2 separate regions of the Homo sapiens genome follow, and region 2 is linked to region 1. Evidence: fine-mapped expression QTL. A gene starts in region 1. The other region holds a variant in brackets. All regions are shown on one strand. Distances are between the middles of the regions. Region 1 holds the start of TNNI3 (troponin I3, cardiac type). Region 2 holds the start of MIR7975 (microRNA 7975).

The links. PIP is the estimated chance that this variant, and not a neighbour inherited with it, causes the effect.
Region 2: its variant is fine-mapped to the expression of TNNI3 in lung (TOPMed, PIP above 0.99).

What each region holds. Positions count from the first base shown.
Region 1 is chr19:55,153,801-55,162,078 of GRCh38, forward strand. TNNI3 (troponin I3, cardiac type) reads right to left here and starts at 3,932. Exons shown (of 8, transcript NM_000363.5): 1 at 3,779-3,932; 2 at 3,496-3,508; 3 at 3,250-3,333; 4 at 2,803-2,844; 5 at 2,401-2,532; 6 at 941-1,030; 7 at 230-406. The coding sequence starts at 3,789. DNAAF3 (dynein axonemal assembly factor 3) reads right to left here. Exons shown (of 12, transcript NM_001256715.2): 6 at 7,843-8,025; 7 at 7,493-7,618; 8 at 7,265-7,387; 9 at 6,840-6,975; 10 at 6,099-6,213; 11 at 5,733-5,807; 12 at 4,865-5,649. The coding sequence ends at 5,262. It overlaps DNAAF3-AS1 (DNAAF3 antisense RNA 1), which reads left to right and starts at 5,509. Exons shown (of 4, transcript XR_007067345.1): 1 at 5,509-5,645; 2 at 7,246-7,414. RefSeq lists enhancers at 3,123-3,710, 6,952-7,878 and a silencer at 6,827-6,936.
Region 2 is chr19:55,122,299-55,130,613 of GRCh38, forward strand. MIR7975 (microRNA 7975) reads right to left here and starts at 994; the gene lies at 927-994. The variant C/G (reference allele first, on the strand shown) is at 4,418.

The DNA.
Region 1 (8,278 bases):
TGCACCTGGACCTTCATGTACCTCTTTGCTCTTACATGGACTTCCTGTAGCCCTAATGCACTTCCTGTCTTCCCCTTCTACTTCCTGTCTTCCTCTTGCATTTCTGAGGACCCCTTACTAGCTGCTTCTACCTCCAACTCCAAGCACCATCTGCCCTCAGGCCTAGGGTTGTTGGCACCCACAGCCCTTCCCCTCAGCATCCTCTTTCCTGGCCTTAGCCCACACTCACCTTCTCGGTGTCCTCCTTCTTCACCTGCTTGAGGTGGGCCCGCAGGTCCAGGGACTCCTTAGCCCGGGCCCCCAGCAGCGCCTGCATCATGGCATCTGCAGAGATCCTCACTCTCCGCAGGGTGGGCCGCTTAAACTTGCCTCGAAGGTCAAAGATCTTCTGAGTCAGATCTGCAATCTGGGGGCACACGAGGGGGTGGGTACTTCTCCTTCCATTTCCCGCACACCCAACTCCTCCATCCTACACTCCTTTTTTATTCTCCTTATCTCGTCTTCCAGTACCGAGGCCTTACCAGTCTCTTCCCGGCTTAGGCTCCCAGTCTAGGCTTCTAATCCTGGAACTGAATCCCCCTCCTCATATGCTCCAGCCTCACCTCTCAAAACCACTGGCATAACCTGGTCCAGCTACATGCAAATCACAATTCCCTGGCCAGTGCCTGAGCTAATTTACCAACATGTGATGCCCTGAGCATGTTCACTAACTTATTTTCTGTTTCCCAACCCATGGCCTTGCATGTGCTGTTCCCTCTGCCTAGAACAGCTTTCCTTGACTATATTGTACTCATCCTTCTGCCCCAGCCCTGCCAGGCTCACAGTTGTCCTGGGTCTCCTGGGATGTGCAGCCAAAAGCAGCTGCAAGGGGTCAGGCAGAGACCAAGTCCCAGCCATCTCACCCTACCCCGAAGGTACCCGAGCTGCCCATGCGTCCCACCTCCGTGATGTTCTTGGTGACTTTTGCCTCTATGTCGTATCTCTCTTCATCCACCTTGTCCACACGGGCGTGGAGCTGTCGGCACAAGTCCTGGAGGAGGAACGTGGTGTGTGTTGTTGGGGGAACCAAAAACAGGGAGACCTGGACTCCTGGGTCTGAGGGAGAAGGGGCTCGGGGCCTGGACTCCTGGGTCTGAGGGAGGAGAAGGGGCTGGGGGCCTGGACTCCTGGGTCTGAGGGAGGAGTTGGGGGCCTGGACTCCTGGGTTTGAGGGAGGAGAAGGGGCTGGGGGCCTGGACTCCTGGGTCTGAGGGAGGAGGGGCTGAGGGCCTCGATTCCAGGGTCTGAGGGAGGAGGGGCTGGGGACTGGACTCCTGGGTCTGAGGGAGGAGGGGCTGGGGACTGGACTCCTGGGTCTGAGGGAGGAGGGGCTGGGGCCTGGACTTCAGGGTCTGAGGGAGGAGGGGCTGGGGACTGGACTCCTGGGTCTGAGGGAGGAGGGGCTGGGGCCTGGACTCCAGGGTCTGAGGGAGGAGGGGCTGGGGCCTGGACTCCAGGGTCTGAGGGAGGAGGAGCTGGGGCCTGGACTCCAGGGTCTGAGGGAGGAGGGGCTGGGGCCTGGACTCCAGGGTCTGAGGGAGGAGAGGCTGGGGCCTGGACTCCAGGGTCTCAGGGAGGAGAGGCTGGGGCCTGGACTCCAGGGTCTGAGGGAGGAGGGGCTGGGGCCTGGACTCCAGGGTCTGAGGGAGGAGGGGCTGGGGACTGGACTCCTGGGTCTGAGGGAGGAGGGGCTGGGGCCTGGACTTCAGGGTCTGAGGGAGGAGGGGCTGGGGCCTGGACTTCAGGGTCTGAGGGAGGAGGGGCTGGGGCCTGGACTTCAGGGTCTGAGGGAGGAGGGGCTGAGGGCCTCGATTCCAGGGTCTGAGGGAGGAGGGGCTGGGGACTGGACTCCTGGGTCTGAGGGAGGAGGGGCTGGGGCCTGGACTCCAGGGTCTGAGGGAGGAGGGGCTGGGGGCCTGGACTCCAGGGTCTGAGGGAGGAGGGGCTGGGGCCTGGACTCCAGGGTCTGAGGGAGGAGGGGCTGGGGCCTGGACTCCAGGGTCTGAGGGAGGAGGGGCTGGGGCCTGGACTTCAGGGTCTCAGGGAGGAGGGGCTGGGGACTGGACTCCTGGGTCTGAGGGAGGAGGGGCTGGGGCCTGGACTCCAGGGTCTGAGGGAGGAGGGGCTGGGGCTTGGGCTTCTGTCTGGGATAGGAGGGCCACATGGTCCTGAAGGAGTAGGTTGGAGCCAAGACTCCACAGACCTGCACACAAAGGGTGTTAGGGGCCAGGAGTCCCACGAACCATATATAATTGGGTAAGGACAGCCATATTGGACGCCTGGGTCCCGAGCAGAAGAGGGGATAGAGGCTGTACTGCTGAATTCCGGGACTAGAAACCTCGCATCCTTGGGAGCCGGTACCTGCAGCTCCGCGAAGCCCAGCCCGGCCAACTCCAGCGGCTGGCAGCGGGTGCTCAGAGCGCGCCCCTTCTCTCCGCGCCGCTCCTCCGCCTCTCGCTCCAGCTCTTGCTTTGCAATCTGCAGCAGCAGAGTCTGCAGAGGGGTGGGAGGGAAGCGCAGCCCACCCGGGGCTTCAGGATAAAGACCAGGCGTGGGGAACCGCCTCTGCCCTTCTAAACCCTCCAGTTTGGTCTCCACTGTTCCAAGGCCCCGTCCCACCCCGAGCAGTACTCCCCGCTAAAGCCACGCCCCGAGCGGCCAAACCCCGCCCACTTCCGCCCACCTACCCCGAAAGCCCCACCCATTCTCAAGCTCCGCCCCCTGAGCACCTGCCTGCTCTTTCCCAGTCCCGCCCGTCCTCACCTTCAGCTGCAATTTTCTCGAGGCGGAGATCTTAGATTTTTTCTGCCAGGGTGAGATGGAGCAAGGAAGGATCATGGAGGGGGATTCGGAGACGACGGTGGAGGGGACCTCAAGACACCCCCAGCAAACCCAGCCGGTCCAGATTTGGGCCCACGTCCAACTTGAGCCCTGAGTCTACGGGAGGCCACGCCCCTCATTCCCATCCACCAATCTGGGTCTCTTCCTTTGGATAGGCACTTCCCATCTATCCCTAAGCAAGTCCGAGGGCAACGGAGTTCCGCCCGCAGGCTGCTGTCACCAATCCGAGCATGACCCTCTGCAAAACTCCGCCCCTGAAGCCCCTCCGCGTAGTCCCCGCCCCCTTCGCAGCCCTGGCTCCTCCCCCCACTCCCAGGGTCTTGGATCCCTCCGGCGCCTGTACTCTGCCCCCAGGAAGCCCCGTCCCACCTTGGCGTGCGGCTCCGTGGCATAAGCGCGGTAGTTGGAGGAGCGGCGTCTGATTGGGGCTGGTGCAGGGCGAGGTTCCCTAGCCTGGGTTAGGAGGAGTGGGGACCCCATCACCACCAAGACCCCACCCAGCCCTTACCGTACCGCACCCTCTGCTAGGGCTGCAGCCTCCCGCCCCAGACCCCTCACTGCAGCGCCCACCCTGGCCCTGGGGGTCCCAGCCACGCCTTAGCCCGCTGCTCTCACCGCATCGCTGCTCCTGGAAGGAGAGAAACCAAGGAGGGGGGTTAGTGGTGGGCTGTGTCCTGTCTCCTAAGGGACCCCTGGAGTCCCCTCTGAACAAGAGGTCGGGGGACCGCGCTTCCCCTTCCTTGGGTTCCAGGAGTCTGACTCGCAAACCCACTTCCTCTCTTCACCCAAGAGTCCCTACGCCTACCTCGCAGGCCAAGGGTCCAGCCTCTCAGCTGCGACCCCTCTTGGGAACCCGGGAGGTCGCCCCCAACTCCCACTGCCTTGGGGCATCACTCACCCATCCGCCATGCTGAGACTCAGGCCGGGAATGGCAGGAGGCAGGGCGAGGACAGGGGCGTTTGGAGGGTCAGTGAGGGGGCCGCCCGGGTGACCTTCAGGGTCCCAGGGACCGTCAGTCTCCTCCGGGCTGCTTGAGACTCCCCGAGGACACTGAGATAAAGGGCGAGGACACAGACTAAATATACTGTCACCTCCTCCTCCCCCTGCCCACTATGCCAGATAACGGGGGCGCGTGAGGGGCGGGGTGGGCCCTGCTCCAGCTGGATCACCAGCCACCTCCGGGCACAGGAATCCGGACCCTCCTCCCTCTGATCCTGGAGTCCTAGACCCCTCCTCCCTCAGACCCAGAGAATGCCCGACCTCCCAACCTCCTCCTCCCTCAGTCCCAGGACCCTGGGAGACCCTGGCCACTCCCTCACACAAGGAGTCCAGGCCCCCAGCCCCCTTTTCCCTCAGACTCAAGTGTCTGGGCCCCCAGCTCCTCTTCCCTCAGACCCAAGAGTCCAGGCCCCCAGCCCCTCCTCCCTCAGACCCAAGAGTCCAGGCCCCCAGCTCCTCTTCCCTCAGACCCAAGAGTCCAGGCCCCAGCCCCTCCTCCCTCAGACCCAAGAGTCCAGGCCCCAGCCCCTCCTCCCTCAGACCCAGGAGTCCAGGCCCCCAGCCCCTCCTCCCTCAGACCCAGGGGTCCAGGCCCCCAGCCCCTCCCTCAGACAAGGGAGTCCAGGCAGGCCCCCAGCACACTTCCTCTCTCAGACTCAAGAGTCTGCACCCTCAGCTCCTCCTCCCTCAGACCAGGAGTCCAGGACCCCAATCCCTCTCCCCTCAGACCGAGGAGTCCAGGACCCCAATCCCTCTCCCCTCAGACCCAGGAGTCCAGGCCACTCAATAAATGTTGTTGATTAATTTGAGGATGCAGCTGTGCTCGGGGCTAGCTCTCAGTCAATAGCACTGGGAAATCCATCCCTCGTCCACTTGGAAACCCAGGAATCTGGTTTCTGGCTTCCTCTGTCCAGCACTCCTGGGCCTTTCTCTCCCAGCCCTGGAGACGGACATAGGACAGGAAAGACGCTTGGACACACAGAAGGGTGGACACAACTTGCTTTACTTGAACCATCTGGGTGCTGACCAGGCCCTGGTGAGGAGACACCCCAGCCCCTAGTCAGCCACAGGGTGCCTGGGAACAAGGGGGCCAAAGTCAAGGGCCTGAGACTCAGTGTCAGATCCTAGGCTGGGCTTAGAGCCTCAGAAGTGGAATTTGGAATTCTGAGAGAACAATCTAGAATTCTAGGAATAGACCATAGAATCTCAGAAATGGAATTTGAAAGTCTACCAACACTCCCGGGGTGGGGGTGGCGGGTACTGAGTGGGAATGATTAGAATAAAATTGAGGACTCTAGCAGCGGACTTAGAATGGTATCAGCGGGTTCTCATCCTACAACCTGACTTTGGAAGTTGGAGATAAGGGGTGTCTAGGGGTTGGGTCAGACTCCAGTTTTGGAGTCTGACTCACAGTTGGGCGGAGCCAAGGCCCCCTGAGGCTGAGCCAGAACCTCTGAGAGTGAACCTGGAGACTCAGAGGGCAGCTGGCAGGGCTCACAGTGTGGGGTCCCACCCTGCAGAGGCTGGGTCAGGCCCTCAAGGGCTGGGTTGCTGGCTTCAAGAGGCTGGGCCAGGATGTCAAGGGGCGGAGTTCCGGGTTCCACAGCTGGGACAGTGTTGCCCAGAGCTGATTCCTGGGACTTGCAGAAACGTGCGAAGGTCTCTGAAGGCCTGGCCCCGGTCTGTGGAGCAAATCCAGCTGCCTGAGCTAGCTCCCTGACCCGGGTGTTGAATCCCTGCAGCTGCTCCTGCCGCACGTCCACCAGGTACCTGCAGATGGGAAGCGCCCTGTCAGGGACCCAGATTTTGATCCCCAGCCAGGATGTTCCCCACCCTCCACCCCACTGACTCACCGGGCTAATTCCACAATCAAGTTCCCTCCGGGTGCCACACAGGCCCCAAGCTCAGGGATGAGAAGATGGACCATACTGCAGAGAGGACGGAGGACAGGCTGAGATTCAGCTCCAAATCCGGAGGGAGGATGGGGCTCTGGGATCCCAGACAATGAGGGAGGAGGGGTGGCAAAACTGGAGTCTGGGTCCTGGGGAAAGAAGGGAGCAGGAGGTCTGGACTCCTGGGTCTGAGGGAGGAGGGGCTGGGGGCCTGGACCCCTGGGTCTAAGCAAGGAGGGGCTGGGGGCCTGGACTCCTGGGTCTGAGGGAGGAGGGGCTGGGGGCCTGATCCTGGGTCTTTGTGAGCACAGCTGCCTCCCCGCTTACCCACAGGCCACATAGAGGAGCTGGAATCGGCCGTTGTAGCAGCTCTTGTGGTGGAGAGTCTGAGCAGAATTGAGCGGCAGGAAGTGGACGGTGAAAGATTCCGGGGTCGGGGCTGCTGGGGGAAGGGGATAGAGGGGTCACCTCTGACAGGCGGAGCCATAAGGGCGGAAAACCAGAGAGATACACAGAGCTGGGCAGAGCTGGGCAGGCACACAGGACTTGGAGATAACACTTTTTGTCCTCTTGCAGCTTTTTAAAAAATCCTCTAAGGTAGGCTCCTGGAAAGTTCTGGGAAGGTCAGCCTGGCAGGCAGAGACTCACTGTACAGATCAGGCAACTGAGACTCTAGAGAGGGAAAGAGGGTGGGTGGCCAGGGCCACATGTGACATGCCCTGTCAGACAGACACGCAGGGAGGGCCAGGTTGGAGGATGGCTGGAAGGAGGCCCAGCCAGGATCCAGGGTGTGGGAGGCTGTCCAAGGGGGAGCTGGGACCCAGCACCCTGTGAGAATATTCTTGGATAGCTTAGCCCTCTGCAGATAAGATTAGAATTCTGCTAGTGGAATTCAGAATTCTAAGCATGCTCTCAGAATTTAGGAAAGGGAGAGAAAGAGAGAAAAAGAGACAGAATATCAAGAAGCCGTCACTTGCCCAGGCATTCCAAATCATGTCAGTCCACACTCCAGTGTGAAACACCTGGAGGCTGGAGTCCCTGGCTTACCTGTTGTTGTCCCTGGCTTACCTGGAGTCCCTGGCTCCGGGCTTCCCTCCGCGTGCTGCTGCTCCTCCAGGTCCCCCCCGGTGGCTCTCGCGCGCCCCCAGGCGGCCACGTCGCGGAGCAGCTCCGTCACGTTGTGTTGAGTGATCTCCCCGGCCGTCTAACAGTAGAAGGGGCGTGGCCAGACGTCGGGGCCAGGATGGCGGGGCGGGGCTTAGAACGCTGGGAGTCCTCGGTCCAGGACTAGAACTCCCGCAGCTGCTTGGAGGATGTGAAGTGGGGCGGGACCTATCCCGCGGGGATGGGGCCTGTTCTCTGAATGGAGTCGTTCCCACCAAGCGACGGGCGGGGTCTGGAGCTGGGGGCGGGGCCTGCTGTGGGGGCGGGGCCTTGCGCACCCACCGACCCCCAGCCCCACCTCTACCCCCAGTCCCAGCCTCGCCGCGCACCTTGACTGGCTGGCCGTTGCTCGTCCGCAGGAGGCTCTCGTCGTCCGCTTCGATGCCGAAGGCCACGAAGGGCCCCGTGGCGATGTCCCCCCAGTACCCGCGCGCTGCCACGCGCTCCCCACGCTGGAAAAGGAGGGAGAGAGGAGGCAGGTGAGGTCGATGTTGGGGCCCCTGACTCCTAGGACTCCGAGCAGCAGCAGTGGGCCAGGACAGGCAGTGGACACGCACGTAGCTCAGGAGGCGACCGGACGCCAGGGTCCGGTTGGGCACATGATAGGCGCTGGAGTCCCTGAGTTCAAAGGCGACGCCTGTGTCCCGCCAGCGTCGGAACTCCTGGGGGTGAATGACTTGAGCCTGGGGTGGGGGGCGGGAAGAAGGGAGCCCTCAGTGAACCGAGCGTGGAGAGACCCCTACACCAGCCTCCCTCAGACCCAGGAGTCCAGGTCCCCAGGCCCTCCTCCCTCAGACCCAGGAGTTCAGGCCCCCAAACCCTCCTCCCTCAGACTCAGGAGGCCCCCAGCCCCTCCTCCCTCAGACCCAGGGGTCCAGGCCCCCAGCCCCTCTCCTGGGCCCCTCACCCCGCGGTCATGCAGCTTCATGCGCAGGTCCCAGTCGCTGACACCGCGCCGGGCGTCGTAGCGGGAGCCCAGGTAGTGGCGCAGGCGCGAGTCCCAGAGGCGGCTCATGGGGAACGCCTGGGGCCCTTTCTCGCCGCCAGCCCAGAAGCGGAATACGGCCTCCAGGGCATCCCGCTCGCGGAACTGCGGGGCCAGGCACGCGGTGGGACAGAGGAAGGCAGAGAGGGATGCAGGGAGAGCGGATTCTAATTGACCCTCTCTTCCATCCCAGAACAGGGGAACGATTCCCCCGTTTCTCGGATGGAAAAACTGAGGCTCCGAAAGCAGAAGCCACCTCCTGCCCCCAGGCCAAATCCCACAGTGGGAGTCGGGGAACTGGGATTCGAACCCCCTAGCCCGCCGCCTGCTCCATCAACGCACGTCCTTTGGACTGTGC
Region 2 (8,315 bases), 31 kb before region 1:
CAGTGGCATGACCTCGGCTCACTGCAACCTCCACCTCTGAGGGTCAAGTGATTCTCCTGCCTCAGCCTCCTAAGTAACTGGAATTACAGGCACCAGCCACCATGCCTGGCTACTTTTTGTGTGTTTTCAGTAGAGATGGGGTTTCACTATGCTGACCAGGCTGGTCTTGAACTCCTGGCCTCAAGTGATCCACCCGCCTCAGCCTCCCAAAGTGCTGGGATTACAGGCAGGGGTGAGCCACTGCGCCCACCTGGGGTAACTTTTTATGCCACAAAAGCAAACTGATGCAAGGCATTCCAAGAGGCCTTTGAGCCTCTTGCAAGTCAAGCTGATTGCAAGACACTCTGCCTTTGATAAAATGTAGTGGACAGAGAAGCAGTGGTTTCAGTGGCAGAGATGACAAATTGTTGCCCAATATTCGTTGTCCCCTTCTTTCTCAACAAAATGGAACCTCTGATTATGCTGGGTTTAGCATAGCCATCTAGAATAATGGTTACATATCCCAGTGTCGGGCCTCCGAGCCCAAGCTAAGCCATCATATCCCCTGTGGGCCTGCACATATACATGAAGATGGCCTGAAGCAACTGAAGATCCAAAAAAGAAGCGAAAATAGTCTTACCTGATGACATTCTACCATTGTGATTTGTTCCCGCCCCACCCTAACTGATACGATATATTCTGCCTGGTCCTTAAGAAGGTACTTTGTAATATTCTCCCCCGCCTTTAAGAAGGTACTTTGTAATATTCTCCCTGCCCTTGAGAATGTACTTTGTACGCCCATCCCAAACCTATAAGAACTAATGATAATCCCACCTTTGCTGACTCTGTTTTCGGACTCAGCCCACCTGCACCCAGGTGAAATAAATAGCCTTTTTGCTCACACAAAGCCTGTTTGGTGGTCTCTTCACACGGACGTGCGTGACATTTGGTGCCGTGACTAGGATCAGGGGACCTCCCTTGGGAGATAAATCCCCTGTCCTCCTGCTCTTTGCACCGTGAGAAGGATCCACCTATGACCTCGGGTCCTCAGACCAACCAGTCCAAGGAATATTTCACCAATTTTAAATTGGGTAAGCAGTCTCTTTTTACTCTCTTCTACAACCTCTCTCACTATCCCTCAACCTCTTTCTCCTTTGAATCTTGGCGCCACCCTTCAGTCTCTCCCTTCTCTTAATTTCAGTTCCTTTCCTTTTCTGGTAGAGACAGAGGAGACGTGTTTTATACGTGAACCCAAAACCCCAGCGCTGGTCACGGACTCGGGAAGACAGTCTTCCCTTGGTGTTTAATCACTGCGGGGACGCCTGCTTGATTATTCACCCACGTTTCAGAGGTGTCTGATCACCACGGGGACGCTTGCCTTGATCCTTCACCCTTAGTGGCAAGCACCACTTTCCTGGGGGGCAAGCACCCCCCACCCCTTCTCTCCATGTCTCTACTCTCTCTTTTCTCTGGGCTTGCCTCCTTCACTATAGGCAACCTTCCACCGTCCGACCCTCCTTCTCCCTTAGCCTGTGTTCTCAAGAACTTAAAACCTCTTCAACTCACACCTGACCTAAAACCTAAACACCTTATTTTCTTCTGCAATGCTGCTTAACCCCAATACAAACTCGACAATGGTTCTAAATAGCCAGAAAACGGCAATTTTGATTTTTCCATCCTACAAGATCTAGATAATTCTTGTCGTAAAATGGGCCAAAGGTCTGAGGTACCTGATATCCAGGCATTCTTTTACACATTGGTCCCTCCCTAGTCTCTGTTCCTAATGCGACTTGTCCCAAATCCTCCTTCTTTCCCTCCTGCCTGTCCCCTCAGTCTCAACCCCAAGCGTCACTGAGTCTTTTCAATCTTCCTTTTCTACCGACCCATCTGACCTCTCCCCTCTTCCCCAGGCTGCTCCTCCTCAGGTCGCTCCCCACCAGGCTGAATCAGGCTCCAATTCTTCCTCAGCCTCCTCTCCCCCGCCCTATAATCCTTCCATCACCTCCTCTCCCCACACCCGATCCAGCTTACAGTTTTCTTCTGCAGCTAGCCCTCCCCCACCTGCCCAGCAATTTCCTCTGAAAGAGGTGGCTGGAGCCAAAGGCATAGTCAAGGTTAATGCTCCTTTTCCTTTATCCGACCTCTCCCAGATCAGTTAGTGTTTAGGCTCTTTTTCATCAAATATAAAAACCCCGCCCAGTTCATGGCTCGTTTGGCAGCACCCCTGAGGCCCTTTACAGCCCTAGACCCTGAAGGGTCAGAAGGCCTCTTATTCTCAATATGCATTTTATTACCCAATCTGCTCCTGACATTAAATAAAGCTCCAAAACCCCCACAACAGGACTTAATTAACCTCGCCTTCAAGGTGTACATTAATAGAGTAGAGGCAGCTGCATAGCAACATATTTCTGAGTTGCAATTCCTTGCCTCCATTGTGAGAGAAACCCCAGCCACATCTCCAGCACACAAGAACTTCAAAATGCCTACGCCGCAGTGGTCTAGCATTCCTACAGGACCTCCTCCATCAGGATCTTGCTTCAAGTGCCAGAAATCTGGCCACTGGGCCAAGGAATGCCTGCAGCCCGGGATTCCTCCTAAGCTGTGTCCCATCTGTGCAGGACCCCACTGGAAATTGGACTGTCCAACTTGTCCGGCAGCCACTCCCAAAGCCCCTGGAACTCCGGCCCAAGGCCCTCTGACTGACTCCTTCCCAGATCTTCTTGGCTTAGCGGCTGAAGACTGACACTGCCCCATCACCTCGGAAGCCTCCTGGACCATCACAGATGCTCTGGGCAACTCTTACAGTGGAGGGCAAGTCTGTCCCCTTCTTAATCAATACGGAGGCTACCCACTCCACATTACCTTCTTTTCAAGGGCCTGTTTCCCTTGCCTCCATAACTGTTGTGGGTATTGACGGCCAGGCTTCTAAACCTCTTAAAACCCCCCAACTCTGGTGCCAACTTGGACAACACTCTTTTATGCACTTCTTTTTAGTTATCCCCACCTGCCCAGTTCCCTTATTAGGTCAAGACATTATAACCAAATTATCTGCTTCCCTGATCATTCCTGGGCTACAGCCACACCTCATTGCCACCCTTTTCCCCAGTTCAAAGCCTCCTTCACATCCTCCCCTTGTATCTCCCCACCTTAATCCGCAAGTATGGGATACCTCTACTCCCTCCTTGGTGACCGATCATGCACCCCTTACCATCCCATTAAAACCTAATCACCCTTACCCCACTCAACACCAATATCCCATCCCACAGCACGCTTTAAAAAGGTTAGGCCGGGCGAGGTGGCTCACGCCTGTAATCCCAGCACTTTGGGAGGCCGAGGCGGGCAGATCACGAGGTCAGGAGATCGAGACCATCCTGGCTAACATGGTGAAACCCCGTCTCTACTGAAAATACAAAAAATCAACCGGGTTTGGTGGCGGGCGCCTGTAGCCCCAGCTACTCGGGAGGCTGAGGCAGGAGAATGGCGTGAACCTGGGAGGCAGAGCTTGCAGTGAGCCAAGATCGTGCCACTGCACTCCAGCCTGGGCGACAGAGCAAGACTCCATCTCAAAAAAAAAAAAAAAAAAAAAAGGTTAAAGCCTGTTATCACCCACCTGTTACAACATGGTCTCTTGAAGCCTACAAATTCTCCTTACAACTCCCCTATCCTACCCATCCAAAACCAGACAAGTCTTACAGGTTAGTTCAGGATCTGTGCCTTATCAACCACATTGTCTTGCCTATCCACCCCATGGTGCCAAACCCGTATACTCTCCTATCCTCAATACCTCCCTCCACAACCCATTATTCTGTTCTAGATAAACCTAGCTGACCCCATAAATCCTAAATCCTTTCCCCACTCCCCTTTCCATTCCTTAAAAAACAGCCCTGGCCGGGCACAGTGGTTCACACCTGTAATCCCAGCACTTTGGGAGGCCGAGGCAGGTGGATCACAAGGTCAGGAGATCGAGACCATCCTGGCTAACATGGTGAAACCCCATCTCTACTAAAAATACAAAAAATTAGCCGGGGGTGGTGGCGGGTGCCTGTAGTCCCAGCTACTCAGGAGGCTAAGGCAGGAGAATGACATGAACCTGGGAAGCGGAGCTTGCAGTGAGCCGAGATCGCGCCACTGCACTCCAGCCTGGGCAACAGAGTGAGAGACTCTGTCTCAAAAAAAAACAAAACGAAACAAAAAAACAAAAAAAAACAGCCCTAAAAGCTGCTCCCACACTAGCTGTCCCTAACTCATCCCAACCCTTTTCATCACACGCAGCTGAAGTACAGGGCTGTGCTCTCAGAATTCTTACACAAGAGCCAGGACCGCGCCCTATAGCCTTTCTGTCCAAACAACTTGACCTTACTGTTTTAGCCTAGCCCTCATGCCTGTGTGTGGTGGCTGCCGCTGCTTTAATACTTTTAGAGGCCCTCAAAATCACAAA[C/G]TATGCTCAACTCACTCTCTACAGTTCTCATAACTTTCAAAATCTATTTTCTTCCTCATACCTGATGCATATACTTTCTGCTCCCCGGCTCCTTCAGCTGTACTCACTCTTTGTTGAGTCTCCCACAATCACCATTGTTCCTGGCCCGGACTTCAATCCGGCCTCCCACATTATTCTGGATACCACACCTGACCCTCATGACTATCTCTCTGATCCACCTGACATTCACCCCATTTCCCCATATTTCCTTCTTTCCTGTTCCTCAGCCTGATCACACTTGGTTTATTGATGGCAGTTCCACCAGGCCTAATCGCCACACACCAGCAAAGGCAGGCTATGCTATAGTATCTTCCACATCTATCATTGAGGATACTGCTTTGCCTCCCTCCACTACCTCTCAGCAAGCTGAACTCATTGCCTTAACTCAGGCCCTCACTCTTGCAAAAGGACTACGCGTCAATATTTATACTGACTCTAAATATGCCTTTCATATTCTGCCCCACCATGCAGTTATATAGGCTGAAGGAGGTTTCCTCACTACGCAGGTGTCCTCCATCTTTAATGCCTCCTTAATAAAAACTCTTCTCAAGGCCACTTCTCTTCCAAAGGAAGCTGGAGTCATTCACTGCAAGGGCCATCAAAAGGCATCAGATCCCATTGCTCAGGACAACGCTTATGCTGATAAGGTAGCTAAAGAAGCAGCTAGCTTTCCAACTTCTGCCCCTCACGGCCAGTTTTTCTCCTTCACATCGGTCACTCCCACCTACTCCCCCACTGAAACTGCCACCTATCAATCTCTTCCCACACAAGGCAAATAGTTTTTAGACCAAGGAAAATATCTCCTTCCAGCCTCACAGGCCCATTCTATTCTGTCGTCACTTCATAGCCTCTTCCATGTAGGTTACAAGCCGCTAGCCCATCTCTTAGAACCTCTCATTTCCTTTCCTTCGTGGACATCTATCCTCAAGGAAACCACTTCTCAGTGTTCCATCTGCTATTCTACTACCCCTCAGGGATTGCTCAGGTCCCCTCCCTTCCCTACACATCAGGCTCGGGGATTTGCCCCCGCCCAGGACTGGCAAATTGACTTCACTCACATGCCCTGAGTCAGGAAACTAAAATACCTCTTGGTCTGGGTAGACACTTTCACTGGATGGGTAGAGGCCTTTCCCACAGGGTCTGAGAAGGTCACCACAGTCATTTCTTCCCTTCTGTCAGACATAATTCCACGGTTTGGCCTTCCCACCTCTATACAGTCTGATAACGGACCAGCCTTTATTAGTCAAATCACCCAAGCAGTCTCTCAGGCTCTCGGTATTTAGTGGCTCCTGGTTTTACCTCAAATCGCCTTAAGTCTCTCTTGAAGTGGATAGATCTTCAGTGGCAAGGTACCCTCCAATACTTTCACCCTGATGAAGTCCTATTCTTTACTTCTATGCTCACTGTTATTCTGGTTCCCATTCTTTTTTTTTTTTTGAGACAGAGTCTTGCTCTGTTGCCCAGGCTGGAGTGCAGTGGCGCGATCTCGGCTCACTGCAAGCTCCGACTCCTGGGTTCACACCATTCTCCTGCCTCAGCCTCCGGAGCAGCTGGGACCACAGGCGCCCGCCACCACACCCAGCTAATTTTTTGTATTTTTAGTAGAGATGGGGTTTCACTGTGTTAGCCAGGATGGTCTCAATCTCCTGACCTCGTGATCCGCCCGCCTCAGCCTCCCAAAGTGCTGGGATTACAGGGGTGAGCCACCACGCCCGGCCTTGGTTCCCATTCTTATGCCATCCTCTACCTCTCCCCAGCTATCTCCACCACACTATCAATCTCACTCTCTCCCAGCCATTTCTAATCCTCCTTTAACAAACAATTACTGGCTTTGCATTTCTCTTTCCTCCAAAATTGCCAAGGCCTCGACTTACTCACTGCTAAAAAAAAAAAGGACTCTGTATATTTTTAAATGAAGAGTGTTGTTTTTACCTAAATCAATCTGGCCTGGTATATGACAACACAAAAAAACTCAAAGATAGAGCCCCAAAACTCACCAGCCAAGCAAGTAATTATGCTGAACCCCCTTGGACACTCTCTAATTGGATGTCCTGGGTCCTCCGAATTCTTAGTCCTTTAATACCTGCTTTTCTCCTTCTCTTATTTGGACCTTGTGTCTTCTGTTTAGTTTCTCAATTTATACAAAACCGCATCCAGGCCATCACCAGTAATTCTAGAAGGACAAATGCTCCTTCTAACAACCCCCAGTATCACCCCTTACCCCAAAATCTTTCTTCAGTTTAATCTCTCCCACTCTAGGTTCCCACGCTGCCCCAATCCCACTCGAAGCAGCCCTGAGAAACATCGTCCGTTATCTCTCCATACCACCCCCAAAAATTTTCACCGCCCGAACACTTCACCACTATTTTGTTTTGTTTTTCTTATTAATATAAGACAGGAATATCAGGCCTCTGAGCCTAAGCTAAGCCATCATATCCCCTGTGACCTGCACGTACACATCCAGATGGCCTGAAGCAACCGAAGATCCACAAAAGAAGTGAAAATAGCCTTAACTGATGACATTCCACCACTGTGATTTGTTCCTGCCCCACTAACTGATACCATATATTCTGCCCCACCCTTAAGAAGGTACTTTGTAATATTCTCCCCGCCCTTGAATGTACTTTGTACGCCCATCTCAAACCTGTAAGAACTAATGATAATCCCACCATCCTTTGCTGACTCCCTTTTCAGACTCAGCCCACCTGCACCCAGGTGAAATAAACAGCCTTGTTGCTCACACAAAGCCTGTTTGGTGGTCTCTTCCCACAGACGCACGGGACACCAGCATCCCTACCAACTGGGTATGATAATGTAATTAACTTCTGTCAATGAGACTGAGTAGGAGTAAACATGTCTCCTTCCATTTTACCCCAGTCTGCGGTCTGAAACAGAGTGGGAACTATCTTACCCTATGGGCAAAGGCAACCCCCTGGGGAAAGGAGCTACACAGTAGGATGAGCTTGGACCCAGGCAATGTTACAAAACAGAGCCATCATCCCAACTCAGACTTTTACATGTGAAAGAAATCAACTATTGTCAGCCAGGCAAAGTGGCTCACACCTGCAATCCCAGCATTTTGAAAGGCTGAAGCGGGAAGACTGCTTGAGCCCAGGAGGTTGAGGCCGCAGTGAGCTGTGATTGCACCACTGCACTCTAGCCTGGGTGACAGAGGGAGACCCTGTCTCAAAAAAAGAAGAAGGCCGGGCACGGTGGCTCACGCCTGTAATCCCAGCACTTTGGGAGGATGAGGTGGGAGGATCACGATATCAGGAGATCAAGACCATCCTGGCCAACATGGTGAAACCCCGTCTCTACTAAAAATACAAAAAAAAAAAAAAATTAGCTGGGTGTGTTGGCACGGGCCTGTAATCCCAGGTACTTGGGAGGCTGAGGCAGGAGAATCGCTTGAACCAGGGAGTGGGAGCTTGCAGTGAGCTGAGATTGCGCCACTGCACTCCAACCTGGTGACAGAGCGAGACTCCATCTCAAAAAAAAAAAAAAAGAAAAAGAAAAAGAAATTAAAACAAAAAAAGAAAGAAAGAAAAAGAAAATCAACTGTTGTGTTGGTCCATTTGGGCTGCTGTAACAGAACACCGTAGACCTGGTCATTTACAAACAATACAAATGTATTGCTCACAGGTCTGTAGGCTGGAAAGACCAGGATCAGGGCGCCAGAAGACTCAGTGTGGAGGGAGGGCCTGCTCTCTGCTTCACAGATGGTGCCTTCTTGCTGTGTCCTCACACAGCCAAAGGGGCAAGGGGCTCTCCCTCAAGCCTCTTTTATAAGGACATTAACCCCATTTGTGAGGGCTCTGCCTTCATGACCTAGTCACCTCCTAAAGTCCCGTGGAATACT